6 separate regions of the Homo sapiens genome follow, and regions 2, 3, 4, 5 and 6 are each linked to region 1. The links come from fine-mapping of genetic effects on gene expression. A gene starts in region 1. Each other region holds a variant in brackets. All regions are shown on one strand. Distances are between the middles of the regions.

What was found.
Region 2: its variant is fine-mapped to the expression of GRB10 in whole blood (TOPMed, PIP above 0.99).
Region 3: its variant is fine-mapped to the expression of GRB10 in whole blood (TOPMed, PIP above 0.99).
Region 4: its variant is fine-mapped to the expression of GRB10 in cerebellar hemisphere (GTEx, PIP 0.98).
Region 5: its variant is fine-mapped to the expression of GRB10 in naive CD8 T cells (Schmiedel 2018, PIP 0.95).
Region 6: its variant is fine-mapped to the expression of GRB10 in whole blood (TOPMed, PIP above 0.99).

Annotation. Positions count from the first base shown.
Region 1 is chr7:50,780,704-50,785,736 of GRCh38, reverse strand. It overlaps GRB10 (growth factor receptor bound protein 10), which reads left to right and starts at 2,841. Exons shown (of 19, transcript NM_001350814.2): 1 at 2,841-3,313; 2 at 5,001-5,033.
Region 2 is chr7:50,744,613-50,749,645 of GRCh38, reverse strand. The region is part of intron 3 of GRB10 (growth factor receptor bound protein 10); the gene reads left to right. Among named protein-coding and RNA genes, the nearest start is that of GRB10, 36 kb to the left of the region's middle. The variant G/C (reference allele first, on the strand shown) is at 2,855.
Region 3 is chr7:50,827,177-50,832,209 of GRCh38, reverse strand. No RefSeq gene overlaps it. Among named protein-coding and RNA genes, the nearest start is that of GRB10, 47 kb to the right of the region's middle. RefSeq lists an enhancer at 4,612-5,033. The variant G/A (reference allele first, on the strand shown) is at 2,185.
Region 4 is chr7:50,262,280-50,267,312 of GRCh38, reverse strand. No RefSeq gene overlaps it. Among named protein-coding and RNA genes, the nearest start is that of IKZF1, 40 kb to the left of the region's middle. RefSeq lists an enhancer at 147-246. The variant A/T (reference allele first, on the strand shown) is at 2,127.
Region 5 is chr7:50,490,398-50,495,430 of GRCh38, reverse strand. DDC (dopa decarboxylase) reads left to right here. Exons shown (of 15, transcript NM_001082971.2): 9 at 14-81. Among named protein-coding and RNA genes, the nearest start is that of DDC-AS1, 39 kb to the left of the region's middle. The variant A/TA (reference allele first, on the strand shown) is at 1,615.
Region 6 is chr7:50,712,029-50,717,061 of GRCh38, reverse strand. The region is part of intron 4 of GRB10 (growth factor receptor bound protein 10); the gene reads left to right. Among named protein-coding and RNA genes, the nearest start is that of GRB10, 68 kb to the left of the region's middle. RefSeq lists an enhancer at 1,337-1,852. The variant T/G (reference allele first, on the strand shown) is at 2,395.

The DNA.
Region 1 (5,033 bases):
GCCTTCTGTGCTTCTATTGTAGGAGGGTGTGCCAGCCTGGTGGAGGGAGGCTGGAAGGAGGGAACCTGGGTGCAGGGTGAGGCGGGGTGCCCGCGGTGGGCAGTGCCTAGAATTGAGTGAAGCCAATGGTTCCACATGTGGGGCTGGCTTGTGTCACGAGCTCCCAGTCCTCCAGACAGTGCTGGGAAGGGGTTGGGGTGGAGGATGTATCTCCTGTCAGTGCCCGTCACCATGGGCCAGGGTTGCATCTGGGCTACATCCCTGCAGGTGCTGGGTGTACAGGCTCTTCAGAGCCCTGGTAGGAGGAGGCTGTGCTGCAGGACATAGGGGTCCCATCAGATGCGGCTCAATAGAGCTGTGGACAGGGCCCAGGGAGGTGAGGCATAGGAAGTGTTTGTCCCATGCAATTTGGCCACATCTTTCACCTTAGAGGCTTCGCTTAGCTGTCTGGGGTCTTCCCACTTTCAAAAGGACATTGCTCAGAAGCTGACAGGAGCCCTGTGTGAGTGAGCATTTAACTGTGGCCTCTGTGGATGGACGCCTGGTTGCTTGTTGTGGGGCTCATGCTTTTGGGTCTCTTCTCAGCTCTGCAGGAGCCTCTTTCAGTTCTGTTGGAGGTGCTGCTCCAGGAGCTGCTGGGGATGGTGGTGGGATTCATATGGCAGCTAGCATGTGATCCACCAAATCTTTCTGGGACTAAAGGCATGGCTGTGTCTGCTGATCCTGGTCCAGAGACCTGTGTCCCTGCTTCCAGAAAAGAAGTCACCTAGCTGATGGAGCTGGGGAGAGGACCCGGGATGAAATGGGGCCCAGCTATTCCTGACACTTCCGATTAATCTTCTTGTTTTGGACTCTACGTTTCCCATTTCCAGAGGTGAATGGTAGTTCTCATTCCTGAGACTTTCTGGGCTTCCACTGAGTATATCATCAGGCTTCATCTCCACTTTCCAGCTTAGCCTTCATCTCTTTTGCCTTTGCTGTCAGTTACTTCTTGACCACTGGCTTTTATGCCTTTTCAAAGATTCTGTTCTTGTTCTAGTAAAGCAAAATGTGTGTCCTGTCAGCCATTCAGTGAAGGTCTGGCTTTTCAAGATTCCTTGTCCATCATTAGATCATTTCTCTCTTGCTCTTCCCACATCCAGGAACAGCTGCTTCGAACTGGGACCTCTGGCATTTTGTAATAGAGGGGAGTGTGGCAGGGAAGCCCTCTGTCCTGCACAACCTGTTGTTCTAGCCCAGGAGATGGCAGGGTGCGTGGGATGTTCAGGCAAAGGAGTTCACCATCCAGGCTGGGAGCTGCTGGGCAGGGAGGCAGAGGAACACTCGAGCCACCTTTGTGGGGTTGACTGCAGAGGTGGAAGAAGCCACTGTGTCAGACCGCAGAAAAGTCTCATATCTGGAGTCTGGAAGGAAAGCCAAGTTCTCCCAGTCAGTAACCTGCTCTGGACTTTGGATAAGTTACATAATTTCTCCACACTTTGGTTTCTCCCCGAATCTCAGGGTTTGATTCTGTGCTTCCATTTCCCATTCTGTGCCTTGCGATGTTCACTATGTGACATCTTCTCTGAGGGGTGCGCAGTTAGAGTCAAAAGCGCTAACACCTTCAATGTTTCTTGCAGTAGCCAGGCCATATGTGGTCAGCCCGGACTGTGAGAAAAGAAAGCCTTGTGTTACCCTTTGTGTTGTGTTGAAAACTGCTCTTGGCTGCTTTCAGAACCAGCCTTAACTCTGCTTTTGTTTGATCGACTTAAACATATTGGAATTTTGTGGTCATGACCACCGTGGAACCTCTCCTTTTGGAGTGCATATCTGCACTTTTTCCAGCCTCCTCCTCCAGTGACCTTCAGGGGCCTGACCTGGCCTCCGAGCAGTTGGACTAGGGTAGCTTTTCCACTCTTTGAACCCCAGACTGAGATGGGGTTTTCCCAGCGCCCTGCCCCTTAACGTGTGTGAATGCAGTATAGGATCTCAGTTTCAGAATCCATTGTCCACTGTTGACTGTTAGGTTCTTACTGCTGTCTACAATGTCTAGCTTTTCCTACCATGTTCTCTGCTAGAGGGGAGTAGAAAATCTGCTTACTGCTTACTGTGGCCTTGTAAACGGCAGTGAATATCTCCAAACGTTCTGTTTTGCTTCCATCATTGCAGGCTCGTGTGTATGTCTGTGGTGTATGTGTGTGCGGGGGTGGGGGAGTATGTGTGATGTGTGTGTGTGGTGTATGTGTGTGTGTGGTGTGTATGTATGTGTGTGGTGTGTATGTATGTGAGTGGGTGGGTGGGATGTGTGTGGTGTGTGTGTGAGGTGTGTGTGGGGTGTGTGTGTGTGTGAAGTGACTAGCACATAGCAGATGCTTGGTATGTATAGGATCTGTTCTTTCCCTCGCTGACTCTCAGTTTAAATGGGACCCTACTTTGTCCTCGTTGTTCAGTAACGTTATGCCTGTGGCTTCCAGAAAGAGCCTCTCCCTTCCTGGTTCTTGCTCTGACATTTTGGGGAGAAGGGTGAGACGAGAGTGATCCTGGAAGAGTAGAACTGGCCGGCCCTGCAGGTGGAAGGTTGCTCGAGCAGGCGGCATCTCTAGCTTGCCGCGGCCGCGATGTCCCCCGCCTGTCTGCGAATGCGGCGTAGCGGGTAGACATGGAGGGCTTTCGGCATCGTCAGAGTGGCCAGTGTGCGCGTCCTTGCCCATCAGGCGGGGGGGCTGTGGGGGAGGAGAGGAGGCAGTGGAGGGAACAAGGGGTTCTTCAGGGTTGCCATGAGAACCAGGGATCCGGGGATTGGGCAGCAGAGGGCCCCCGCCGGGCGTTGGGGCGTGGCCGCGTCACATGGGTTTGGTCCTGGGATTCCTGTTGTGCTCCAGGACCGGGCGCTGCTCCGTCGTCCTCCCGCTCCTCAGGAGCGCCCAGTCCCTCGGAGGCTGAGTATTGCAGCCGGGCGGCAGCCGGCTCCGCGGAGGGGCCCCCGGGCACCTGCGTGGTGATGGCGCTGGGAGCCCCCGGGCACGCTCGGGCGGTGGCGCGGCATCCCACCCTCGCCCGGATGGCGTCCCCAGAGGCGGCGTTGGCCCGCTTTTCGTGCTAGCGCGTTCGCCTGGCGCGCGGTGGCCCCGAGGCCCCGGGTCGGTTTTCTGCGCCGCAGGCCCCTGGCCGGGGCGGAGCCGTGGAGGACCAGCCCGGCCCGGCTCCGAGCGCTGTCCATGCGGAGCGCTGTCCACGCGCCGGGCACTGCGGGGGCCGGGCCCCGAAGCCCTACCCGGGCCGGCGGCGCACACGCAGCGACCCCGTGCGGCCAGTGCTGCCGCCCGCTCTCCAGGTACTCAGGTGGGCTCCGCCGCGGGCGCTGGGCGGTGGGCGGTGGGCGGTGGGCGCGAGCCGGGGCGGCGGGCGGATCGGCCTGCGCAGGCTGCAGAGGCCCCGGCCGCGGCGGACAGGGCCCGGGAGGGAGGCGGGGAGGTCTTGCCGCGCGGCCCCCTGCCCGCCTGCCGCGGGCTCGCTGCAGTCCGAGATCCCGAGCTTCGTTGCCGCCAGCCATAGGACAGTATTATGTAACCATTTTTAATCTTAATTGTTTAATATTATGTAACGAGTAATAACTGTACCCACGGAAACCCGTGACGACGATTCGAGCGAACCTCGCCCGCTCCTTCCTCGCCAGGTGGTGGGCAGCGGGTGTGGGAACCGGTTTGGGAAATGAGTGGATCTGGGCATCCGGGCTACTGCACCGGCTTTTTCTGTGAAAAACATAATGCTAGAGCCTGCCTGGAATTCTCTTAAACCTGGATGGCATATAGTCCGGTATAAAAAAGCTTTGAGTAAACACGTATAGTCAACGTTGCCTCTTTCTCCATGAAAACCTCTTTCTCCCTGGAAGGTGCATATCAGACAATGTGAATTGAGCAGTGAAGATGTGGGCATGGGGTTCGTGTTCTTGATGGAGTTCAAAAAATTGTGCATATGAACACGTAGGACGTCCTAGCCCTTGCTCTTTAGAAAAACAATCGGATCACCTGTTCCACACGCCAGTCGCCTCCTTGGTCGGCTGCCATTTGTCTGTTGATGGTACAGTCCCTGCCAGGGTGCTGGGGGGACCTCGTCTGCGGAGCCGGCACACAGGTGGCTATGGGCGGGGGAGACTGCAGTCTAAACCCGCAAAGCTCTCCTTCCTAGCCCAGTGAGGGGAAGCGTGGGTGTCTTTCCTCATTGTTCTTTTTAAGTCTGAAAGGCAGCGACTGCAGGGATTATGACGTGCTGGCGGCCAGGGCCTCGGGTGCTGCCTGGAGTCTCCTGCGTGTCTCTGCTCCTTTGATGTCAGCATCGGGGGTGGGAGCAGGGCCCACGCATTCCCCCTTTGGCCTGGGTGGGAACAGGGGAGGTGGTGGGCAGGGCCAGAAGGGCTTACTGGGATTTTCTTTCTCTCTGTCACTCCAGAGAAAGGTGGTAAAGAACACTTGTTTCAGTTTGAGGTGCTCGGCAGCCACGCGCTGAAGGACGGTTTTTAATTGTAGGGTGGGGTGTGAGTGCAGTGTGGTTCAGTCCCCTCCCCATCTTGTGCTACCTGCCGTTGTACCTGGACCTGTGAATCAGGGATAATAGTTACTATCTTGTAGGACTGAGAATGGTGCATACTAACTGCTGAGGAACATGGTGAATGGAGTTATGGTAATTGCACGATTGGCATGAAGGGGTGAGAGAAGTTCCAGATTGGTCGATTAAAATGTGAGTTATTTTTAGTGTCTCCTAAGGATTTCCATCACCAGTTGCTCCTCCAGCCATCATGTAATTACCACCCCAGAACTAGGCTTCCAAACTTCGAGAGAACACTGCATCTTTCGAATTTTGGAGGTTAGGCTCCAAAATTTGCATATTTAGGCCACAGCCTAAATTCACTGACACTTGTGTTCCCACAAAAGCCAGGCAGCTTCTTGGAGTATGTACTTGTGACTTAGTAAGAATGTCTTAGGAAACTCGCTTGGACTAGAATGGTTTTACCTTTCTTTCAGACTTGGGAGGCTGCATTCTGATAATTCTCAGGA
Region 2 (5,033 bases), 36 kb after region 1:
GTTTAGAACCAATGGAAGAAAAATGCTTTGAAAATGACAAATTCCACAAATTATACAAAGTTTCTAAGAAGAACTCCTGGAGATTATTTATAGAAGCTCTGGTAATATAGGATGAGTGTGGCCAGAGTAGAAAAAAATCTACTTTTATCAAAGCAAAATTATTTAAAATTCCATCTCACAATTATACATTAAAGAATTTTATAACAATACAAATTTTGGCCAGGCATGGTGGCTCATGCCTGTAATCCCAGCACTTTGGAAGGCTGAGGTGGGTGGATCACCAGAGGTCAGGTGTTCGAGATCAGCCTGGCCAACATGATGAAACCCTGTTTCTACTAAAAATACAAAAATTAGCTGGGCATGGTGGTGAGTGCCTATAATCCCAGCTACTCTGGAGGCTGAGGCAGGAGAATCGCTTGAACCTAGGAGGTGGAGGTTGCAGTGAGCCAAGATCGCACTATTGCACTCCAGCCTGGATGACAGAGTGAGACTCCATCTCAAAAAAAAAAAACAAACAAAAAAACAAAACAAAACAAAAAAACCCAACATTTTATATAGAATTGACTAACGTGTTTGTAAACATCTAGACCATTTGAGTTTGACAAATTGTGGCATCCTCTAGATTGTAGAGTCTAGACCCATTCCACCCTTTTACAGGTGAGAGAACAAGAGTTTTTATTTAATATGTCTTTTAATGTAGCACCTCTTTATAAAGTAGAGGTTCTGATTTCTTATGGCCTTTTGGAAATAAATGTCCTGGTAGCTTTTCCCTGTTTTGAGGATTAGAGAAATTACATTTTGCACACGTGGGTCTCACTCTCTCCATGAAATTCGATTGTTTTACTTCAGAGTCTTTGTGGTCAAGATGGATATCATTGCCCTTTACCCCAACTGGTCCCTATTCCTGGAGCACTATGGGGTCCAAAGGCCTCGGTCCCCGCCACAGCAGCTAAACACTGGGGTTGCTTACATTCCTGAACTCCAGGCTCCTCCTCAGTGACACTCGGGGTATTGTTAGGAAGAATGAGAAGGAAAATGGAAGTCAGCGCTTAGCTGAGAACCTGGCCCATTATAAATGTTCCACAAAGGCTTGTTTTTACCCGACCCCATCCCTGGTACCCTGATTTTCTCCGCATTCTCCCAGCCTGTTGTGTGTGCCTTTGCCTCTGGTTTTGTTATGCTGTTTCTCCTACCTCCTTTCTCCACTCCTAATTTCCAACACTTTCCCGAGCTCAGCTCTCACATCTGCCGTGACGCTCTCCCTGGCTGTTGTGGTGCCCACTCGTGTCCATCTGCATGGCACTTGGCCTATAGCAGGTAGGTGTGCACTGTCTGATGTCCATCTCTAACACCAGCACATGGCTACTCCGTCATGGGCCACGGGGCCTCCTCCAGGGTGCTAGGCAGAGAGGAGGAAAACCCCTACCTAGGGCTTCCTTAATTAATCCGAAACCACAGGACCCCGTTAAAGATGGGGCGGGGGGTGAGTGATTACGTTCAGTTATTAGAGCAGATCCACTCCCTCCCCATCCTGAAATAACAGTGTCACCAGCATCATCAGGCGGGGATGAGAACAATCCTATCCTCTGGAATTTCCCACCTGCACGCATGCGTCCTGCCTTCTAGAATTTGCCACCTGCACGCATGTGTCCTGCCTTCTGTGATTTCCTACCTGCAGGTATGCTTCCTGCCTTCTGGAATCCCACCTGTGCATGCATCTTGCCTTCTAGAATTTCCTATCTGCACACATGCATCCTGCCCATTCATCATCTCCCACGCCTTTCCTATCTCGATGTCTGGAGACGCCCTCCTTCTACTTGCCCAGGCCCGAGGTCTCCACTCCGCTTTTCTTTCACGTGTCCCACCTGCTAGATTCAGAATGCACCACTTCTCTCCTGAGCATCCATCAAGGCCTGGGTGCAGGATTCTGCTGACTGGTTTCTCAGCTTCTCTCCTCCCAGGCGGCCTGTTTTCAGCAGAGAAGCTGGGGTCCCATGGAGCTGCCCTGCTCCATGCTTGCATGCCATTTCTCTCAGCGTTGGAGCAGAGCCCTCAACAGTGAGCGTGGTGGGTGTCTGCCCAGTCAGCTCTGGGGGTGAAATGGAGAAGCGGGGTGGAGGGAGAAAAATCCCAAAGGGTTGGAGAGAGGGTAAAACCATCTTTGAAAATGCTTCACCCCACTTTTCCTCTTGAGAGAGCTGCCTTGCTAGATTAAAGGCTCAAAGAAGCACTGGAAGAAAGGAAAACATTTGACTTTATAGAAAACCTGAACTTGTTTGACTGTAAGCGCCTTTGTTTTGTGGATTTGGAGGGAACGGTGGGGACCTGCTCTGCTTCGCGGGTTTCCTCCTCAAAAGCAGGAATCCCAGCCCCAGGCCAGGTTCAGCTACCGCGCCTGGGCTCATGGCTCAGGGATAGGTCGTGTGTCTCTCCTTAGCCTGGCTTCCTCATTGTAGTGCCCACCAGCAGCGACCATGACTGTGAGAGTGAGAAGAGACCATGATGGAAACTCCTAATGATTCAAATAAGTTTAGAGAGAATTTCGCTGCAGAAACTGGGGCTTTGGAGAGACTGCTGATTTGAGGGGTAGGAGGCAGCGGGTTTCGAACATGCTTTGTCAACACTTGCAGAGGGATGCAGAGAGAGAAAGGGCTAGAGCTAGAGGAGGACATGCTTAAGAGAAATGTCACTTTGCTTCCTCCCTTCCTTCCCTCCTGAAGTGGGAAATGCACACAAATGTTCATGGACCCAAGGGAGGGAGGACATGGGCAGGAAGAGGTCATGAATTGAGGCGAGAGCACAGAATGGCTCACGCAGGGACAGGCCAGGGGAGCCCTGGGGACTGGAGGCCCGG[G/C]GGGCAGAGACTGGGTGGTGTGCAGGCCCTGAAGTGATATGGGTGTTCTGCAGGAAGGGGTTTGGGGATGCTGCACTGAAAAGGGTGGGGATGGGAGGTTTAGGGCAGTAGGCAAAAAGCCTCTTTTGTGGAGAAAGTGAGTAGCTGAGGGTGAATGAAGATTTGCAGCACAGCAGGGAGGGTCTGCAGGTAGTTTTTGGTGATTGCCATTATCCTCTTTGGTGCTGCTGAGGAAAGGCCCTCACAGGAGTCCACACAGTTCCTGGGTCTGGCAGTGTCACCAGAGGGTGCCCGCTCCTCCCTTATTTCATTAGAATCCCGGTCTTAGGTATAAAAGAAAATAAATCACTCCTTGGTTTACAGGGTTCCATTCTGATAAACCCATCATAAGACACAAATGTCGTAAGTTGAAAATGCATTCAGTGCTGGCAACACGGTACATGGTGCCTGATTTAATGACGGTTTGACTGTTTTAATTTTAATTTTTGATCTAATAATGCTTTGTGTTTTTGGCTTTTGGATGGTGTGAAATCGACAAGTGTTCAGTAGAAACTATAACCCAATGGTAAGTTGTAAGGAGATTCTTAACTAAAAATGGGTTTACATCCTCATCAACTCATCATAAAGATGAAAAATCCTGAGTTGAACCATTGTCAAGTTGGGAACCATCTGTACAGATTATGAAGAAACCAGGCTGCCTGTGGAGCTTGTATGGTTTCACACTGCCACATCCTACTCTCAGTGGCACCCAGGACAGCGTCCTTACAGCTCAGATACTGGACTCTGGGGCCTAATTGGGAAGAGAGCAAATCCCAGGCCTTGTTCAAGATTTGCCAAAAGAATGAGATTAAGATCTGATGCCACTATCTTCAGTATTTCCTAATTTAGCCAGAGAGTTTACTTTAGCATCTAGAAAGTGTGATTAACTACTTTAGCGTTTAGAAAGAGTGATTAACTTTTTGAGGCCTTTAAAAAGTTTTCTTTAGGTAAAAAGATGTCTTCTGTGAGTTATTTGGGTTTTATTATAGGGACAAATGGTTTACCATCTAATATTGATTGGAATGACTTTGGAGCGCATTTAGTTTATAAAGTGTTTAAATCCAAGGGCTGTTTTATAGAGCATCTTTTATTTTTCGGATAAAGTTCTAGCCGTTTTCCCAACAGTTATGAAATTCACTATTTTTAGGCGGCAAAGACAGATCTGAGTGGTTTTGCTTTTCCTTCCCGTTGGCTTTATCTATTCCCAAAGGAAGACAGTGCTTCCGGACCAGTGGGGGTTATAGTTGGTAATGTGTTGTCATGGCAATTGTTCCCCTCTTTGTCTTAATTGATTTGGTGTCTTAATTTTTGTTTCTCTTTTTATAGTTTAAATGTACAAAGATCTATTCCTTGGAAGACACCCAAAGGCATTCGGTAATTTGTAAGAATTTGTAAAATTCAAGTATCAAGGATTCCAAAGGTAGAAACAAATCTTTAATGAATTTAGAAAAATATTAATATATCAGAGAACAATAAGTTCTTTTAAAAGGAACCCAATTTTAAATCTATATTTAAGTAATACGCATTGCAAATTTAAAATTACAGTTGACTCTTGAACAACATGGATTTGAACTGTGTGAGTCTATTTATATGTGGAGTTTTTTTCAGTAATTACTAGAAAATTTTTTTGAGATTTGCAACAGTTTGAAAAATCTTACAGCATAGCCGAGAAATACCAAAAAAATTAAGAAAAGGCTATGTCATGAATGCATAAAATATATGTAGAAGACTAGGCTGTTACTCTAAAATATATACAAATCATAAAAAAGTTAAAGTTTGTCAAAACTTACACAAACACAGACCATACATGGAGCCATTTGTTGACAGAAATGTAAAAAAACCCATGAAGGTGCTGTATGAAATCATCACTGCATAGAATTAACTGTAGTACATACTGCACTTAATTTCATAGTTATGAAAATTACTGTACTACTGTAATAATTCCACTGTTGCTGTGAGCTCAAATGTTGCAAGTATACGCTTTAAATGCCATGTGATGCTAATCATCTCCATGTGAGAAGCTCCCATCCCAGTAAATTGCTCATTGCATTAAAAAGTGACCTCTCGTGGGTCTTGTGTATTTTTCATGTTTAATGCAATACCGTAAACTTTGAATAACACAGGGGACCCATACTAGTGA
Region 3 (5,033 bases), 46 kb before region 1:
ACCCGTAGAAGGAACCAACCCTGCCAACCCGACACCTGGATCTTCGACTTCTCACCTCCAGAACTGCGAGACAATACATTTCTCTTGTTTGAGCCACATGGCTTGTTATGGCAGCACCGTTTGAAGGGCAGCACACTGCCCTTCAAAAAGAGGAGACAGACAAGCTGGGCAGGGCAAAGGAGATCTCCCCAACATTGTAGGAGATCAGAATGGCTTGGCCATCATTGCTGAGGCCATAACTTACCTTTAACATGGATGGCCCCTTAAGTGGAGTATGAGGCAATTCAATTGAAGAGATTTTAAGAGTACATATGTCTATACCTATATCTGTATTTATACAGTGCTCATTAGCCAATGCGACTAGTGGCTACCATATTGGACAGCACAGATACAGAACATTTTCATCATCACAGAAGGTTCTGCTGTACAATAATGCTCATGAGAAGCAAATGATGTGAAAGTCATGAGACTAGGGCTCTAGAGCCCTGGCTGGGTTCCAATCCTCCTCCTCCTCTCCAATTTCGTGTGTGTGTGTGTGTGTTTGTGTGTTTGTGTGTGTGTGTGTTTATCATACCCACGCTTACCATGGAAGTCACTTAGGAACAGAGAACCTCAAGGTCAAACTACTCTTTGCCAAGGCTTGAAATTCATGGCTGTTTTTAAGAACACTTATTTACTTGATCATTTTTATTGTTGATCTTTTAATCTACTTTTCCTAAATTTCATCTTGGTTTTTTTTATTTTAGACAGTCTTCTTTCTGTTTGGCAAAACTATTGGTTGGACACTTTTGTTGAATTTCTTCTTTGTTCAGAAATCAACAAAAAACCCCTCAGGTTCAGAACTTCTTTTCTGTTGAGCATGTGCAGTTCAAGGGTTGAAAAAGACAAGGGCTCTGTCTTCAACAGTATGGAGCTGGGCTGTCCAATATGGTAGCCAATGGTCACATGTAGCTATTTAGGTTTAGGTTTAAATTAGTTTAAATTAAGTATGGAAGTCCCCAGTCACACTGATCAAGTGCTCAGTAGCCACATGAGACTAGTGGCTACCATACTGGACAGCACAGATATAGAAGATTTGTATCCTCACAGAAGTTTCTGCTGGACAGTACTGCTCATGAGAAGCAAATGATGTGGAAGACCTAGAGCCCTGGCTGGGTTTCCGTCCTTGTCTCCAATTTCCTGATCATTCATCTTAGGCAAAACATTTGATATTTTTCACTTTTTTTCCCTCTTCCTACTAAAAGAGAAGGAAAACTAGCTTGCTTACATAATGGACGTAGTTTGTGAAATAAAAGATATGTATACAATTTAGTGCAAAAAATATTTATAGAACAATTACCGTGAGCCAGGTATCACGGTAAGTCTGCAGACCAAACACATATAACACATTCTGCTAGCCTCATGGAGCTTGCAGTCAAAGAAGACAAAAATGAGGCCAAAAATAATTATAATACAAGCAATAACAAATATGCACAAGATATTGAAACTGGACAAAATGATACAAAGGTGGAATGATTAATTTGAGGGCAGTGCAGACATTTGCAGGAAGACCTCATATAGGAAGTGTTTCTGAAAGAGAAAGTTTGGAAGATGAATTGGAGTTTGATAAGTTGCACCCGAGTTTTGTGTATGGACTGTATACAATAAAATTCAGGTCTCTCCAGGCGCTGTGGCTCATGCCTGTAATCCCAGCACTTTGGGAGGCTGAGGCAGGTGAATCACGAGGTCAGGAGTTCAAGACCATCCTGGCCAAGATGGTGAAACCCCGTAACTACTAAAACTACAAAAATTAGCCAGGCATGGTGGCTAATCCCAGCTACTCAAGAGCCTGAGGCAGAGAATTGCTTGAACCTGAGAGACAGAGGTTGCAGTGAGCCGAGATCGTGCCACTGCACTCCAGCCTGGGCGACAGAGCAAGACTCCATCTCAAAAAATAAAATAAAATAAAAAAATAAAATCCAGGTCTCTTCTTTCCTCCTCCATTTCTTTCCTCCTCCATTTTCTTTACTGTGATCACAGCTCTACATCTGAAGTGTTCAAACCTTGGGCCGGGTGCAGTGGCTCACGTCTGTAATCCCAGCACTTAGGGAAGCCGAGGAAGGCAGATCACCTGAGGTCAGAAGTTCGAGACCAGCCTGACCAACATGGTGAAACCCTGTCTCTACTAAAAATACAAAGTTAACC[G/A]GATGAGGTGGCACATGCCTGTAATCCTTGCTATTCAGAAGGCTGAGGCAGGAGAATCGCTTGAACATGGGAGGCAGAGGTTGCAGTGAGCCAAGATCATGCCATTGCACTCCAGCCTGGGCAACAAGAGTGAAACTCCATCTCAAAAAAAAAAAAGTGTTCAAACTTTGTAGCCGAGCTGAAGAACACACTATTCAAACAGTCTTATGTGAAAGCAAAATGTGTAAAATGTATAAATGCAATGTAGGGTTCCACTTTGGGCCAACATAGAGTAACAGGTATCACATTTATCCTCTTGATGAAAATAATAACAACAACAATAAAACAAGTTAAAAACACCATCAGCTTTCAAGATACTAGACACCACCTGATGCAGGACAGTGATCACCATGAGGCAGGAAGCAAACCATGCAAGCCTTAACATTGCCCCTCTCTTGAAAGAGCTCCCAGGTAACAGTGCAGAGGGAGGAACCCACATGCCAGAAGACTCCATAATTTGATGAGACAGAGCTGAGAGGTTATATGGTTCCATTTACGTGAGATGTGCAGAAGAGGCAGACTTATGGAGCCTGAAAGTAGACAACTAGTTCCATGGGCTGGGAGGAGAGGCAAGTGAGGAGTGACTGTTAATGGCATTTCTTTTTGGAGTGATAAAAATGTTGTGGACCTAGACAGTGGTTAGGGTTGCATAACTTTGTGAATACACTAAAAAATTAACTGTATTGTACACTCAATAAGGGTGAATTTTATAGTATGTGAATTGTATCTCAATAAAACATTTACAAGATATAGTATTAAAGGCCAGGGAGAAATGAAACTATATTATACAGCTATTAAGTCACCAAGGATGTATTCTGTTATTTTGTTTCTTTGTTGTTTTTATTTCATCCTCTTTAGTAGACATCACTGCTGTTCATCAATTATTTCCAGTATTTTTCACTTCCGGAGGTATGCTAGGCTTGTACCTCTCTGCCCATGTGTTAGTCAGCTCAGGCTTCCAGAATAGAATACCACAGACTGTGTGTGCCTTAAACAACAGAAATTTATTTCCTCACAGTTCTGGAGGCTGGAAGCCCAAGATCAACAAGGTGCAGGTAGTGTCATTTCTGGTGAGGGCTCTTTTCCTGGCTTATAGACGGCTGCCTTCTCACCATGTCCTCACATCCCTTTCCTCTGTCCACACACTCCTGGGGGCCCTTATTCTAAGTCATAATAACTTAACCTGTCCCGAGTAATGCAGCCTCCATAATAAATATCATTATCTTGCTTGAGTTTCTTCATGTTTATAATTTTTAAAAATCATATAACATTTCAAAGAGTTAAGGTTTCACTTAAAAAAAAAAAGACCCCATTGTGGAACACATAAATTGTTTCCCATATTTCTCTATTAAATAATCAGACTGCAAAAAACTTATGAATCTGTCTTTAAAAAAACTTTTTTAAATTCCTTAGGTTACATCCACAAGTGAGATTATTAGATCAAAAATCCCACAATTTTATGGATGTTGATTTGTATAACCTTTTACTCTATTACTTATATAAATGTACCTATTCCACTATATCTTTATGATCATTAGGTTGTAGTATTGTTTTCGCCTTATTAAAGTGATATACAGATAATCCCCAACTTACGATGGTTCAACTTAAGGTTTTTCAACTTTACAATGGTGCAAAAGTGATACACATGTAGTAGAAACTGTACTTTGAGTACTTATACAGCCATTCTTAGTTTCGCTTTCAGTACAGTACTCAATAAATCACATAAGATATTCTCCACTTTTTGTAATAGGCTTTGGATTAGATGATTTTGCCCAGGTGTAGGCTAATGTCAGTGTTCTGAGAATGTTTTAGTCTCAGCTACAATGCTCAGTAGGTTAGGTGTATTAAATGCATTTTCAACTCACTATATTTTCAACTTATGATGGATTTATTGGGAAGTAGCTCCATTGTAAGTTCAGGAGCATCTGTATTTATACTTAGATTTGTGCAAAAATTCATTAAAAATCTGTGTAATTTTGCATAAAGCATAAATCAAGGGTGATTACTAGATTCTAAAAAGTAGTCTTCTGAAGTGCTTTTAAAGTTTGATTTGTTTCAATCAGCATAATGGGTGTGTCTAGGTCAAGTGTGAGGATTATATTTTGGTGTCCATCGAAGTAGGTGGGGTGTAAATTCTATGAAGGGCCGGACTGGCAGAAAGATGTGGTCCTCATGCTAGGTACTTCATGTAGTCATATGCACAATGAGCTTAAAAAGCAATTGGAGTGTCTTGGTCCATGTAGGTGGAACATTGAAGAGTGTCAAGAAGAGCTGGATGGGAGGTGCTGTCATACAGGCAGGGCTCTCTCTCAAGGTCAGCTCTGCCTCCTGTTGTATTGGCTTCTTCTGAAGGCAAGTTCTCTCATGAAGTGGGGAAGATGGCCACCACCAGCTTCCCAGTTTAGCAGCACAGGGAAAGTGAAACTCTCCTTCCCAACATACACATAGCCACCTCAAGGGAGGCCCTCCTGGCCCTGTGGAAATGCATACCCTTTGCATCAGTCCTTCCTCCTGTGGCCCACTGGGGGTGGTGTGCTGATGGACAACCTAGGACCACAAGGGATGGGGAGATGAGTTCTTCCAGGGATGGGGGATCCTGGACAGACCAAACAATAAAAGTCCCCTGTGTCATGCATCCTCATACAATCCTATGGCTGAATTAATAACTGAATTAAGGGAAATTCCAGATCAGCCTGAAGCATCCTGTAGCATCAGAGGACATGCTTTAAAAAATAGGAACACATCAAAAGCACACAGGAGTCATCCTGAAACAGTACCCAATGGCCAAAGCTGGAACAATCCATGAGTCT
Region 4 (5,033 bases), 520 kb after region 1:
TCATAACAAGAAACAGCCTCCTCCTTTCTACACACCAGCTGAGCTAGAACTCTATCATGCAGCAGTGGGGCATTGCTACCAGAATGGCTGCTCTTGAGGGAAGGGGAAGACTGAAGATCAAACCATGCATGGTTCACAGTAATTGGTGCTCCTTCCCAGTTCCAGTTGAGCAATGTAAAAGAAGGTGACTAACAAGACATTAAACTGTGTGCATGTTTCAAAGCACACCCAGGACAGAGGCTCTCGGAACCCACAGGAGCCTGTGGTTTCTGAAATATGGGTGGGTGGCTTCCTGCAGCTGCAAGGCATGCTGGGGAGGGGAGATGAGATAGGCCGCGGCCCCGCCTCACCCCCTCTTCCCGAGTGGTTTGGCGCGGGTGTGCCCAGCCTGCTGCTCCTGGCCAGGCAGTTAGAGTGGAGGGAAACCTCCCGTTACCAGGAAAGCAAATAATGGGCAGATCAAATAAATCCATGTGGCTAAAATGCAAAAACAGATAGAAATCTATCTCAGGCCAGTGCCTGTGGGAGCAATGGGAAGAGATTCATTTTATTTTGCATATGTAGACAGTGATTTTAATGTTATGTAAATGCAGCCAGCGATTCCTAATTGCTCCTGAAATGCACGTGTCAGGGGCTCTGTTGCAGCACAGGTTGCTAATGATAGAAATAAGCTGTGTTTTTTACAAGGAAGGCTCGCGATTACCAGCTTTTGATTTTTCTTTTTTTTTTAAATTACAAATTTTAATTAGGACAAGCCAAGGCAATGAAGGTGGAGGGGCAGGACTGCAGAAGTGCCTGGGGTAGAGACAGCTCAGAAGAGTCACCTGGGCATGGAGAAGGGGTGCCACAGGTGGCCTTGCGGCTCTGGGTCAGCCTGAGAACAGACACTCCTGATTTCAAAGTGTAAAGTGTCATTCACCCCCTCTGAAGCACTTATCCAAGCTGACATACTGGGAAGTCAGGGTGGGAGGCAATAGTCTCTGGTTTCTCCAGGAAGATGAGCTGTGATGATCTTTCCCGGCAAAAAGCCGAGACTCTCAAGAGCAAAGTAGCATTGCACAGGGGCAAAGAATGACAGGAAAGTCACAAGTGTTGGGTGATGCAGACCACACACTTGGGGCAGGAAGAAGAGTTGGTGGAGCCCACCAGAAGGGAGGAGGTGAAGACCAGTAAAGGCAGTACAGCCCTGCCCCCTACCCCTCCTGCCCTGTGCTCCAGCACAAGCCCAGCTCTGTGACCCTCTTAACATAACACCCTCTCTGAACAGAGCAAGAGCCTCTCCCTCAGGCTGCAGGTACAGTGCCTGTCTGCTAGGCGAGACCCACCACCTTCAGAGATGCCACTTACCCAGGACACCCTAGGCTGTAGTGATGGCCTTTTCATCAAGATTATCCAATCTTTATCCCAGGACTAAGCCAGACCTCCAGAAATGTACATACCTGGACCCAATTCTCTGCCTCTCAAGACGACGCCACAAAGCTTTTCAGACTTAGATTTTCCACTAAGGATTGTTGAAAGAAACAGCCACATGGAATAATTGTTATTGTGGCCATTTTTTTAAAAAAACCAGGGATGTTATTGATAATTTTGCATCCTATGCATATATACCTTTCTAAAGCACGGGGCCAAGGAATGTGATTTTTCCTGAAAAGCAGCAAGATCCACTGTGACCAGACTGTGAATTGTGCAAACTGGAGTTTTCCTATTTTGTCCTGACTTAGACAAGCCAAGGAAGCTCAGAGTCAAGGCCTCAATCAGTTTCTAAGCTTCTGTGTATGTTATCTTCCATCCCTCAACTCTCAACAGAGGTTTTTCTTTATACCCTCCACCATCTTCACTCCTTTATATTTCATGCTCCCTGATTTCATTCTTAATGTGGCTGGTTTTTTTTTTTTTAACTCTGAGCCAACTTTAAAACAATTTCAAAATTGGGAGAGCTATTCATAACCAAATTTAAAACTAGTGAAATGTGTTTTGATAGAAAAATGCCTGGAGTCCTGCCCCTTTGGCATTTTTGCACACTCCACATTCACACGTTGTAGGTAGAGGTAGGTGTGACCACCTTTCCCAAGGCACACAACATTCTCAGCTGAGCAAATGAGTTCTGTGATGTAGTCAGCAATTCC[A/T]GCTTCGGAAATTCCACAATGGTATGAAAGAAAATAGTTTTGCTCTTATAAGAAAGAGGTTTCAAGCCACAAATGAGTCATGGGCTACCTCTATCTCCTACTGCTCTTTTTCATAAAACCGAAAACTTCCCCTTCCCCCCAAGCCAAACCCTCACCTCTCCTTGTCACCTCTTAGTCCTAGAGAATCACAAGTCTGAAATCACCCTGAAGTTCTTCCTTACCCCCATGTTCAAAGACACACAGAACCTACAACAGAACCTATCTTCCTAGTGTGTCTTTCATTCATGTTTTTCTTCCCTCATTCAATATGAACCCTGCATCGTCAGACCTCTGTCCTCTCTGCAGACTTTCCCTGAGCCAGGCTCCCTCCCCACTCTGCTGCCTGGTCTTTCTGGTCCTGGGGCTTGTTCTGCCCTCCTGAGGCCTTCCCTGTCCACTCAACCTCGCACATCACCAGCCCCTCTATCTGACTCTTCACCCCACTATCCTGATGATTCTTCATGATGCTGTTCCTCTCTAACAATATTCATTTTTTTTCCTCTTAACTGTCTCTCTTCCCCACTAGAAAGTAGGTGCCATTAGAAAAAGCATTGCACCTGCCCTGTTCTTTTGCTGTATTTCTTGAGATACTTGAGAATACTTAAGGGACTGAATGAATGAATGAATAACTCACTTTACCCAAGTCTGTCAGCATCATTCCGCTGGGCGCTTGCAATAGCTCTCATTCTCTGCCTCTGAGTCCTCCCATTTTACTTTACCTTATATAAGAGCTTGACTAATTTTCCTGGAATACTTATTACCTTTTAACATCTTTGAAAAGTTTTCCATTCAAAGCACAGAACAAAGTCCAAGCTGCAGAGCATGCTTTTGACTATTGCTTTCATCTGGCTTCTATCTATGTTTCTAGCATTGCCTCCCTGGAAACTAACTCCACTCCATCTTAACATTTCAGCTTCAGTTGCAACCAGGCATGCCCCCCAATTCCAGGTCCTTTCTCATGCCATTCTCCCTTCATTTAATTCCTTCTTCCTATTTTCAGGTGAGAGGTATTCCCATGAAGAATGAAAATATTCTTCAGAGTCAGTTAGCTTTGGATTCAGATCCTGACCCACTATTTACTACGCATGGGCTCTTATTTTTTCCCCCTCTTTGATGACATGTGAAGATGAAATAAGAAAATATGCATCAAACACATGGCAACATTTTAGTTTCCTTACCTACATCTTCCATTTTCTACAGTCCTTCTTGTAAGAGCTGCTTCCAGTCTGTGTATCTCCCAGAAGGCATTCCTAACTGCCTGTGATTATGTCTTTAGTAAATTTTCTTCCATGTTCCATGTCTGCACACATCATAGGTAACTTAAATTTACTTGACAATGTTATCTAACTCTCTGTATCTATATCATCCCTTCCCAACTAAATTTTATCCTCATAAAGGACAGGGAACCTGTCTTCCATTACGTTTCTTTTTAGCTTGCCCTCCAGAAGGTTCTGAATAAATGTTTAATACTTTTGTTCATTCATTCATTTATTTGATAATAAATACTTGTTATGTGGAAGGTGAGATGCTCAGCCTTGTAGAGGGGGATGCATATGAAGCAAAAGAGAGATTTTTTTTCTTCAAGAACTTACAATCTTTTTGGCTTTAATCCACAGTAAAAAGTGCATTATATAGTGATTTTGTTTCTCCACTATGCTGGGAACTATGCCAGCACCAACGATGCTGGTGAACAAAGATATACATAGTCTATGCCTTAAATTCTTACAGACCAGATAGTAAGAGAGAAACTGTATCAAAGGAGAGATTAATTCAAATTTAATAGACATTTAGGATAGAAATAAGTGAAAAGGATAAAGATAATATAAAACAAAAGTGTAAGAAAACATTTCTTACTGGATTTTCAGTTTGAAAAAGAAAGATCAGATTTGCTATTCTGAAATATCCTGAGTTGGCAATTATCTGGTTAACTTCCACAGTTTAATATAGAGTTCCTCTGGGAGGAGAGCACCCTGCCATTTCATATTGGCCCCTGTAGATCTTCTCTTTCAGATCATTTCCTGTTTTGTCCAACTTCACTGGGTTTGAGGCTACTGAATGAGAATCAAGTCCAGTGATGACTCAGTACTGTGTTCACTCACCTAATCTAGGAAAGGCAAGAGACAGAGGTGGGAGGGACCTTTTCTTCCTCTTTTCCCATTGTGCTTTTGAATCAATGTGTTGTAGTCAGGGATAATCACAATTATGCTTGGAAATTTTCAAAGAAAAAGTTTGTTAATTGACTTAAAGCAAGGTTAATCAACCAGACGGGAGTGACCTCTTTGGGGCCTTCTCTCTATTCCAGAGAGAAGTGGTGTGGTGAGTGTAGTCTCCCTCCTCCTGCATGGCCTTCTCAAACCTTGACTCCATCTTGGGGTGCAAGCTCTCAATGGAAATTCACAGGTTGTCTGTTTAGTTCTTCATCATATGGTGCAATAACACACATGGTGGATTATATAACCTATTTTTTTTGTGGGTGGGGAGGGCAGTCCCATTACCAGAACAAGTCCCCCCAGTGGAAGGCAGAAGAAGAAGGGGAGGGAGATGGGCATTTTCAGAGCCTGAGGTGTGCCAGGAAATGTACGTTGGCTTACCGGTTCCCATGAGAACCTTGTGAAATGGTGATCTCTGTTCACATCTTCAGATGAGGAGTTTGAGACAGTGAGTGGAAGGTCTGGGTGGTGGCCTGCTGTACTATCCTGACTCCACAGAGAGATAAAACTGCCAGGTACAAATGAAAAACAGAAATCCTGCAACTCCCTGCCATCCAACTACCGATTGTTTAAAATCCAGGAAGTGCAGGGTTATCTATGGGGTAGGGTTAGGTGGAGATGGAAAGCTGAGATGGTTCCTGAACACTTCTGTTTGGTT
Region 5 (5,033 bases), 290 kb after region 1:
TGTTCTTTGGCAGTTTGCAGATTCATTCAACTTTAATCCCCACAAATGGCTATTGGTGAATTTTGACTGTTCTGCCATGTGGTAAGTTTCCCTGCTCACAGATGTCAGTTGCCTGTCCGAGGTGACAGTGAAAGAAGCTGGCAGGGAAGATGCCAGAGCCAAAGGGGTGCAATAGTCACTTAGCTCACTGCTTGCTGCCTTTTCTGAACCCTTGATGGAATTATTGCTAATTCTTAGCCTCACTGGAAACTTTTATCTAGGGAATATCATTGCAACATACTGGCATAAGAAATGAGAAGCCTAAAAAGGACAATTTTTTATTTGATTTATCCAGCATTGACAGAAAACAAATGCAAGTACACACTTCTAATTCAGTAGCTTGTGTTTTCATTCTTAGATTCGTAACCAGTCTTAGTGTAATGCTAAGTTTAAGCAATCTGAGTCCAAATGCTTAAAAGTATTTGCTAAGGCCGGGCACAGTGGCTCACACCTGTAATCCCAGCCCTTTGGGAGGCCGAGGCGGGTGGATCACCTGAGGTCCGGAGTTCAAGACCAGCCTGGCCAACATGGTAAAACCCCGTGTCTACTAAAAATACAAAAAATTAGCTGGGTGTGGTAGTGCATGCCTGTAATCCCAGCTACTCAGGAGGCTGAGGCAGGAGAATCGCTTGAACCTGGGAGGCAGAGGTTGCAGTGAGCCGAGATCATGCCACTGCAATCCAGCCTTGGCGACAAGACTCTGTCTCAAAAAAAAAAGTATTCGCGAAAGAAAAATAATAGTAACCATGTTTCCTAAGAATTTCCCTGGAAATTCTTTTCTTCCTCTCTTTTTTTTTTTTCGAGACAGTGTCTCACTCTGTCGCCCGGGTTGGAGTGCAGTGGTGCGATCTTGGCTCAAAATCTTTTCTTTCTTTCTTTCTTTTTTTTGAGACAGTGTCTCATTCTGTCGCCCAGGCTGGAGTGCAGTGGTGCAATCTTGGCTCACTGCAAGCTCCGCTTCCCAGGTTCATGCCATTCTCGTGCCTCAGCCTCCCGAGTAGCTGGGACAACAGGCGCCTACCACGCCCGGCTAATTTTTTGTATTTTTAGTAGAGACGAGGTTTCACCGTGTTAGGCAGGATGGTCTCGATCTCCTGACCTCATGATCCACCCTCCTCGGCCTCCCAAAATGCTGGGATTACAGGCGTAAGCCACGGTGCCTGGCCGGAAATTCTTAATAACAGCATGATAATACCTTGGTGATATTTAGAATAAGAAAAAGAACTAAAGCATTAAAGTGGGTGATATTACACCACCTACACAATGTTTAAAGAAATAATGATGATGGGCAGTGATACAGGGACACTAGAAACTAGTTTCTCTAAAGTTTTAAAGTAAGAAGTTGATTGATTGATCATAGGGCCAGGAGGATTTGCATGAATTTTGTACAGTATGCAAAACTGCAAAATTTTCCAAATATTCAGAAGGCTTTGCAAAATTGTTCAGTATGTAATTAAGTGAATAACTTTTCACTTTCCTCCTAAGCATGAGGAAAGCAGCTTTTATACAAAACAACTAATGTCAGCTCTCAAGGTTACCAAAATACCCGTTTGACCTTTTCCTGTTTTTTTTTTT[A/TA]AGGCTAACCACATTTCTAGTCCTTTACTTGTATACAAATCAAATTATTTTTTGTCAGTCTTTTTCCCCAAACTTCTGCTATATAATTTTAAAACCAGTTGGTATGTGGGCATTTCAGACTTAATTTTGTCTGAAATAAGTATTTATGAAAGACATGGCCGTTATGAATGTGAGTATTCTTTTGTATTCTTGTGGTTGTGTTTTTCTGTTTCACCCAAGGTGGAACACAGTGAGGACAGTTTGCACCGTGTGCCAGAGGTCCCTTTATTCGAGGGGTAATTTTGATTGAAATGTAAATCCGCTCTGCTGAGGTTTTTGGTCAGTGGGGAAAATCCTCTAAGGTGGCTGGAGTTCGGAAGGACCAGGCAGAGCATCCACAGGCTCTGGCGGGAACAAGTGGCTCTCCCTACATGCTTTTGTTTTGCAAGGGGCAGGCGTCCTCAGATGCCTTCCACAAAGGAAGCCCTAGAACCACCCTTGAGCAGGGCAGGGCTGATGGGCTGTCCGGAGGAGGGGTTCTCGTGCGCCCTGAGGCCGTCCTCAATGCCTGGATAGAACAGTGATATCAGCAAGGCTGTTTAGTGACTGCGGATAGGTACATCCAGGCTCCCTTCTAAGTCCCTAACCTCTCGTAGCTCTCTGGACCCCCACGACAGCCCTGTGTTGAGGGACACAGACATTGCCACGCTCTCTTTACAGATGAGGAAACTGAAGCGGTCAGGGACCAGAAATATTTTGGGTCCCTAATCTTGGAGGCAAATATTGACACACGATAAGAAGGAGTGTAATGAATGCGGCGTCCTGCCCTCAGGTCCAGACAACCAGTGCGTATGTTAAGGCTGAAGAAAACCTGCTTAGTCAGTGCGGTGGTGAGAAGGAGTTGAGCCTTTCGGGACGTGGAGTGCCTGCCGCAGAGCTGATGCCCCGAGGCTGCCGCAGACGCTGCAGAGCTGATGCCAGCAAGTTGGCGGCTGTGCGCTCATCTCTCCCGGACAACTCTTCCCCGGCGCTCGGGGTTCAGTTCAGCCACCAGCCTGTGAGGGGAAATTTGACAAAGTGGAGGTGATGTAGGGAAGAGACACAGGACACACAGGGATGAGGCCAGGCCATTTGGAAAAGGCCATTTGGAAAATTTCCTTGTAGAAGGAATTAAACGTAAGCCCTAAGACACAAGAGAGGCCTGCGGTGTCTGGAAGTCTGCCACAAGAGAAGGGTGATGGGGTTAGTTCCCATCCTCTGGAGTGGGCGACAGTGGTGGGGCAGGGTGGTTGCAATACTTGAGGAACCTCTTACCTTCCTATGGGCTTGAAAGGCTACAAAATATGTTTTTAAATTGCAATAGAGAATGTGCTCTTTCTCTCCTGAGCCGGTGCGTTCTCGACAGAACAAGAGTCAAAGAATTTGGTGAGATGCTGTGTACCTGGAAAAATCAGATCTCTCCAAAACCCAAGGTTTTGTCCCATGACACTATAAAAATGGCATGAATGTTGATAGATGAAATCTGATCTTTGAAAGATTTGTGTTTTAACACAGAAATTGCTGATCTTTACTGTTTGGGGGCACTGTGCCTGCATTAGTTGGCTAGGGCTGGCTTAACAAAGTGCCATGGACAAGCGGCTTAAACAAGAGATGATTTATCTCAGTCCTAGAGGCCAGAGGTCTGAGATAAAGCCATCAGCAGGCTGGTTTCTTCTGAGGCTTCTCTCCTGGGCTTGCAGATGGCTGTCTTCTCCCTGTCCTCACATGGTCTTCCTTCTGTTTACCTGTGTCCAAATTTTCTCTTCTTATAAGGACACCAGTCACATTGGATTAGGGCCTGTTAACCAAAAAGTATCTGAGACAGGTCTCAATCAATTCAGATGTTTTATTTTGCTAAGCTTAGGGACATTCCTGGAAGAATAAACATGGAATCACAGAAACAGGGTGTGCTTTGTGCCTTTCCCCAAAGATGATTTTGAGGCCGGCAGTATTTAAAGGGGAGGGCAAGCTGGAGGGGAAAGAGGGAGGGAATGGTCACATTACTGAATCCACGTGTTGTGAGAGAAAAGGAGCAGGTAGAGGAATAGTCAATGATATATTTGTCTCACGCCCAGTAAATCAGCTCTTTATATAAGATAAGGTGAGCATAGAGTAGCTACCTGTAGAGATATTTAACCTTTTATCTGTAGCTTTCTGCTTAGGAACAAAAGGAAGGGTATCTTCTTGCATGAAAGCATCCAGCTTATTTTTTTTCCTTTGGCATAGTAAATTGAGGCACCAAGTTTTTATTTTCCGTTCACATTTCTTCCCCTCCCCTTTTAAAAAAAGTCTTCAGAAAATGCATTTTAGAAGAAAATGCGTCTCTAGTCTTGGGGTTTTGTCTGGTCTCTTGTGACTAAGACAGTTTATTTCTAGACAGGTCCCACGTGGTTAGGAAAGCTCATTTTTAGCAGGTTGTAAAGTCTCATGACCCATGAAGGAAAAAAATAGGTGGAGGAAGAGAGAGAGAAACAAACAAACAAACAAACAAAAATAAAGGGAGAACAATCCTGGAAAACTGACATAAACCGTATTACTCTGAAGTCCCTATGTCAGTAGGCAGGTATGAAAGTGATTTACGTATATAAATAGGTTCCTGTTATTTTCTTCCAAAGTTGACGTTGTCTAGCTTCAGTTTACAGGGCTTTAAGAAAAGCATAGCTTAATATTTAGTGATTTCAAATCACGATTAAAAAGGAAAAGAAAGAAGGAAAAAAAACTGACAACATTATTTTCCAGAATTGTAGCCAGGAAAAATTTTAGAATTCAGCCCAAATTGTAGAAAATAATAAAAACAGACAAACATTAGGCAAGGCTAGACTCTAATTACAGATGTACTATAGTTTATTTTGAAACATAATTTTTCTCTTTCCAGTTCCCCAATTGTATTAAATACAAGATTATAATAGGGCCAATTTATTTGTAAAATAAGTTTTAGTTCTATTATGATTGGCTTGATTATTTGGATAAAGTGCAGCAAGAATAATCATTTGCCATATAGGTTTGCTCTCTCGCTCTTTTTGTTGTTGTTGTTTTTAAATTGGTTTTGTTGGAACCTTTTCATAAAGAATCTAAGATTTAGAGCTTTTGTTGTTGTTGTTGTTGTTGTTGAGACAGAGCCTTGCTCTGTTGTCCAGGCTGGAGTGCAGTGGCATGATCTCGGCTCAGTGGCATGATCTCAGCTCACTGCAACCTCCACCTCCCAGGTTCAAGCGAGTCTCCTGCCTCAGCCTCCTGAGCAGCTGGGACTACAGGAGCGTGCCACCACGCCTGCCTAATTTTTTGTATTTTTAGTAGAGATGGAGTTTCACCATGTTAGCCAGGATGATCTCGATCTCCTGACCTCATGATCCACCCACCTCAGCCTCCCAAAGTGCTGAAATTACAGGCATGGGCCACTG
Region 6 (5,033 bases), 69 kb after region 1:
CCTACAATAAAAGTGAGGCTCAGAAACTTTGGTTGACTTATCCAGCCCGGCCAAATAGCGGGAATGCAGAAAGTGCTGGCTGCAGCCTTTATTTTCTCTGGCCCCAAACCTGAGCTCCTTCCTCCCTCCCCTCATCTGGCCTCATCATTTGGAGGTAGTTTATCGTAATCTTTTCCATCTTCCTTTTCTCTCTGTGTGCCATTCTGGATAGTTTCTATTACTATGTCTTCATAGGGTGCTCCTACCCTAGACCTCTCCAGACCACGCCAGCCGTTGGGCGAGGGAGCCTCACAGTGTGTCTTTGGAGATTGGTCACTGGGGATGGAGGGAGGGGAGAGAAGCGTGGTGTCCAATGTCTGGTTAATCCTGCCCACATATTTTTCATCTCCTGTGTTGCATTTTTCATCTGTAGGGTTGGATTTGGTCATTTTATATCTTCCACTTCTCTCCTTATCACTCATGCTTTGCTTTTCCTTCTTGAATGCACAGAGCATATTTATCTTCATCATTTTAATATATCGCCTGCTGTTTCATCTTGGACATTTCTGTATCCGTTTCTCTTGGCTGATTTCCCTTATCGTTATGGGTTTTATTTTCTTTTCATGCCTGGTACTTTTTGTTTCGATCCCAGTCATTGTAAATTTCACCTGGTTGGGTGTTGGCTACTTCTTGGGAGGGGGCTATTCTTTTAAATATTTTGGGCTTTATTCTGGAAAGAAGCTTCTTGGAAATAGTTTGACCCTTTTGAGGCTGGCTTATAAGCTTTGTTAGCTGGGCCCAGAGTCACTTTTAGTTTGGGGCTAATTTGCCCCCACTGTTGAGGCAGGACCCTTCTGAGGGCTGTCTTGTGTCCCATGCGTAAGGAAGTTTTCCATTTGGGTTGGTGGGAACACGCTTCTCTCCAGATGGCTCTGTCTCCTTCATTCTGGTGGTTCTTCCCAGTCTTGGTATTTTCCTTACATGCATGCGTCATTAATCCTCAGCTGGAGATGTGTGTGGAGAGCCCCCTCTCTTGAGCGCTCTCCTCTCTGCCTTGACCTTCCTGAGTGTTGAACTCTGTCTCCTTAGGACGATCCTAGGCTCTGCCTGGAAGGGAGATTCCCCCTCCCTGCGCTGCAGCTTGGAAGCTCTCTCCAGCCAGTGAGTGGGCACTAGTAGGGCTGCGTCATGTGGATCATGTCTCAGGAATCACTGTCCCATGCTGCCTGTTGTCAAATGTATGAAAACTGTTTCAGTTTTAGTTATTTAGGGGGAGAGGGTACATCTAATCCTTTATATTCCATATTGGCCAGAAGCTCAGAAGTCACCCATGATATTATTTTAACCGTGGTTCTAGGAGTAGATTTGCTTTGGAACATTTTTGTGGAGTGTGCAGACCCAGCTTTGGAACTCAGAAGAAGTTTAGACGTCATATGGTCCAAAAACCTGATTTTATTGGTGAGGAAATAGGCCCAGAGAGTGAAGTTATTTGCTCAGAATCATAGTTTGTCACACTGGCAGTTTGTAAACATTTGGCTCATGCCACAATAAGATTTTTCATACCTGAAGGGCGAGGTGAACTGTTTCTTATGGCCCACAGCAAGGTTGGGATCCACCAATTGTTCCTGCTGTAATGGCTGCCCGAGTTTGGTCTTACTGGGAAAAGTCACTCTTTGGCAGAGGGATTGAGTTTCCTGAGCCCTGGGATCTGTGCTGTTTATTCATTTTTATGAATAAAACGAGCTTTATCCAAAGCCTCTGGGGAGCATCACTATGAACCGCCGTCCTCTTGCCCTGCCAGCCCAGCCCTTCTGCTTGCACCTGGAAGCTGCTCCATGCCCTTCCCTGCTCCAGATCGCGCCTGCCCTTCAAAGGGCTGCCACACCTGGGAGCCCCAGGCTGGAGCTCCAGGCCAGACCTAGCTTACCTCATTCCGCCTCCAGCTTCTTGGCATTGGCTGCCATTTACCCTTGGCCCCCTGCCCTCTACCTGTGGGAGGGACTTAGAAATGAGGAAAAGCCACCACCAAGGATTCATCATATCAAACCCTGGGGCCTTTTCCTGGTCAGCCAGGACAATGAGAGTTATTTCCAAATTCTGAGATTATTGTTGAGAAAGTTCAAGGAAGAGATTTCTCTCTTCCTTCTGCTCATGGGGGAAGAATGTGGGTGTGTCATGTGCCTCCTACGGCCCTGATCTGCTAGGAGGGCAACCCTGGCTCTGTTGATCACTCTCACAGCCGCACATGGTTTGGTTCTCTGGTTTTAGTGTAGAGGTTGCTGGGGTTGTGGGACCCAGAGAGAAAACGAGAAGCTTGAAGCTGAAGAAGTTGGGTTCAGTGCAATTGCAATGGCTTTGTGCACCCCACCTGGGAGCTCAGGAGGGCTCAGGATTGCACTCCGTTTTTTGTTTTTT[T/G]TTTTGAGACAGAGTCTCGCTATGTAGCCCAGGCTGGAGTGCAGTGGTGCAATCTCGGCTCACTGCAAGCTCCGCCTCCTGGGTTCACGCCATTCCCCTGCCTTAGCCTCCTGAGTAGCTGGGACTACAGGCGCCCGCCACCACACCCGTCTAATTTTTTGTATTTTTAGTAGAGACGGGGTTTCACCGTGTTAGCCAGAATGGTCTCAGTCTCCTGACCTCGTGATCTGCATACCTTGACCTCCCAAAGTGCTGGGATTACAGGCATGAGCCACTGCTCCTGGCCTCAAGTTATATTTAAAGTATATAAATATAATTTGACTATAACTTGCATTGTCACTGATCCTCTTGTGGTACTTTAAAGATTGTGTTGTCAAAATTATTAAGTGGGTAGTTTAGAGATTCTGATCTTCTGATTTCTCAGACTGTTAAGTTACTCTAGAACTCATGATCGATTAAGGTACTGCTACATGTTGACTATTCTAACAAATTAATATTATGTTAATACATGTGGATATTTTGGTGTCTGAATAGTTGCCTTTTTGTTGAAGTTGGGGATGGAGGAAGTGGTGAGGAGGGGTGAAGGTAGGGGAGGAAGAGGTAGAGGTGATGGTAGAGGTGGTGGTGGAGGGGGAGGAGGATATAGAGATAATGAAGAGTGTGGAGGTGGATGTGTTGGTAGCAATGGAGGTGTTGGAGATGTAAGAGGTGAAGGGTGGTGGGAAGGAGCAGAGGTGATGGAATGGGTGGAAGTGGTGATGAAGGGGTAGGTAGTGGAGGAGGAGGAGGAGCTAGAGGTGAGGGTGGAGGTGGTAGAGGAAGTGGACGAGGTGGAGGTGATGGTGGAGATGGTGGAAGTGATGGTGGAGGTGGTAGAGGAGATGGAGGAGGTGGAGGTGAGGGATAGAGATGGTGGAGGAGGTGGAGGTGATGTGATAGTAGAGGAGGTGGAGGTGAGGATGGAGGAGGTGGAGGTGACAATGGAGGAGGTGGAGGTGGTGGTGGAGGAGGTGGAGGTGATGGGGGAGGTGGAGGTGATGGTGGAGGAGGTGGAGGTGATGGTGGAGATGGTAGAGGAGGTGGAGGTGAGGATGGAGATGGTGGAGGAGGTGGAGGTGATAGAGGTAGCAGAGGAGGTGGAGGTGATGGTGGAGATAGTAGAGGAGATGGTGGAGATGGTAGAGGAGTTGGTTGAAGTGCTGGAGGTGATGATGGAGGTGGTAATGAAATGATGGTGGGGGTGGTAGAGGAGATGGAGGTGGCGGTGGAGGAGGTGGAGAAGGTAGAGGAGGAGCTGATGTGGCAGGAGAAGTGATGGAGATGGAAGGAGGTGGTGGGAAGGGGTGGAGTGCTGGTGGAAATGTCGGGAGGGGAGGTAGTGACCGCAGAGGAGGAGGAGGCAGGGGCAGTAGTGGCAGTAGTAAAAATAGCAGCTGAGATTTACTGAGCCGTGCTTTCCATGTGTGATCACACTAAATCTTCAATAGTCCTTGGAGGTTATACTCACACAGGGTGGTTTAATGTCTTCCCCAAGGTCATGTAGCTACTCTTCTGTAGAAATTCTAGAGCTAGTGCTGTCCCCCTTTCGGCCAAAATGCCTCATTGATGTGGGAATACCAGATGCAAAAACAGGAACAAAACTGACTTGGCAAAGGCATTTTATTTTGGGAAAACCATTTGTCAAGATTGACAGGCTCTGGGCAGGAGGTTTCTTTGTAGGGTGATGGAAATGTTCTAAAATTAGATTGTGGTGATGGTTGTACAGATCCTTAATTATACTAACATTCATTGGTTTGTACACTTCCAACAGATGAAATTTATGTTATGTAATTTATATCTCAATAGAGCTGTTTAAAATGTAAATGATTGATAGACTCCTCCCCTTGTGAATAACCAGAATTGATGTTTCTGTGCTGAACACTGCAGAGTGGGTGGTTAAAGTGAGGCAGCTCATGCACTACTTTTGCTTTTAATTCAAGAATGGCTGCACTTGGAGGTAGTTATGTGGAAATAAGTGCCTGAATATGGAGTACAAGCCACTGATCTGTGTGTTTTTTAGGCCGTATGATTTTAGTGAAAATGTGATCATTTTTTATGTGGTGGTATTTTCCCTGCCAGGCCAGGCATTCTTACCATTTGGGAGAAAAGTTTTTTTGTACTCTGACCAGGGCTTGCCCAGATATTTTCATGTTGGCCTCAGCAGCCTGTGTGAATACAATTGTAAGTAAAGAGCATCCCCCTTGTTCCTTGATACGAGACACCTGGCTTGCTGACTTTTCTTTTTCCCCCATCTCAGGCTTTTGGTGGAAGCAGCTCTTGTTTTTGTTTAAGGATCAGTTTGACTGAAATCTCTGCTTAAAAACCTCTTGCTTCCTTTCCTCTTGCATAGACCTAAAGTGTAATATCAAAACAGGCAGTGTCACTTTGGGTGAGAAAAATGGCTCTGGCTCATTTATTATGAAGGTTATTTCCATTTGAGGGACTAGTTTTGTACACCTTGCAACTGGCAGAATAGGAGTGCTGATACTGCAGCTTTTACCAAGTTCACTAATGTTTTAGGATTTTTTTTTTCAGCCTTTTTCAGCCTTGTGGAGTTTCTGCATGTTTTAGGAATTCTCTGAGTGACAGATTTTGTAGTT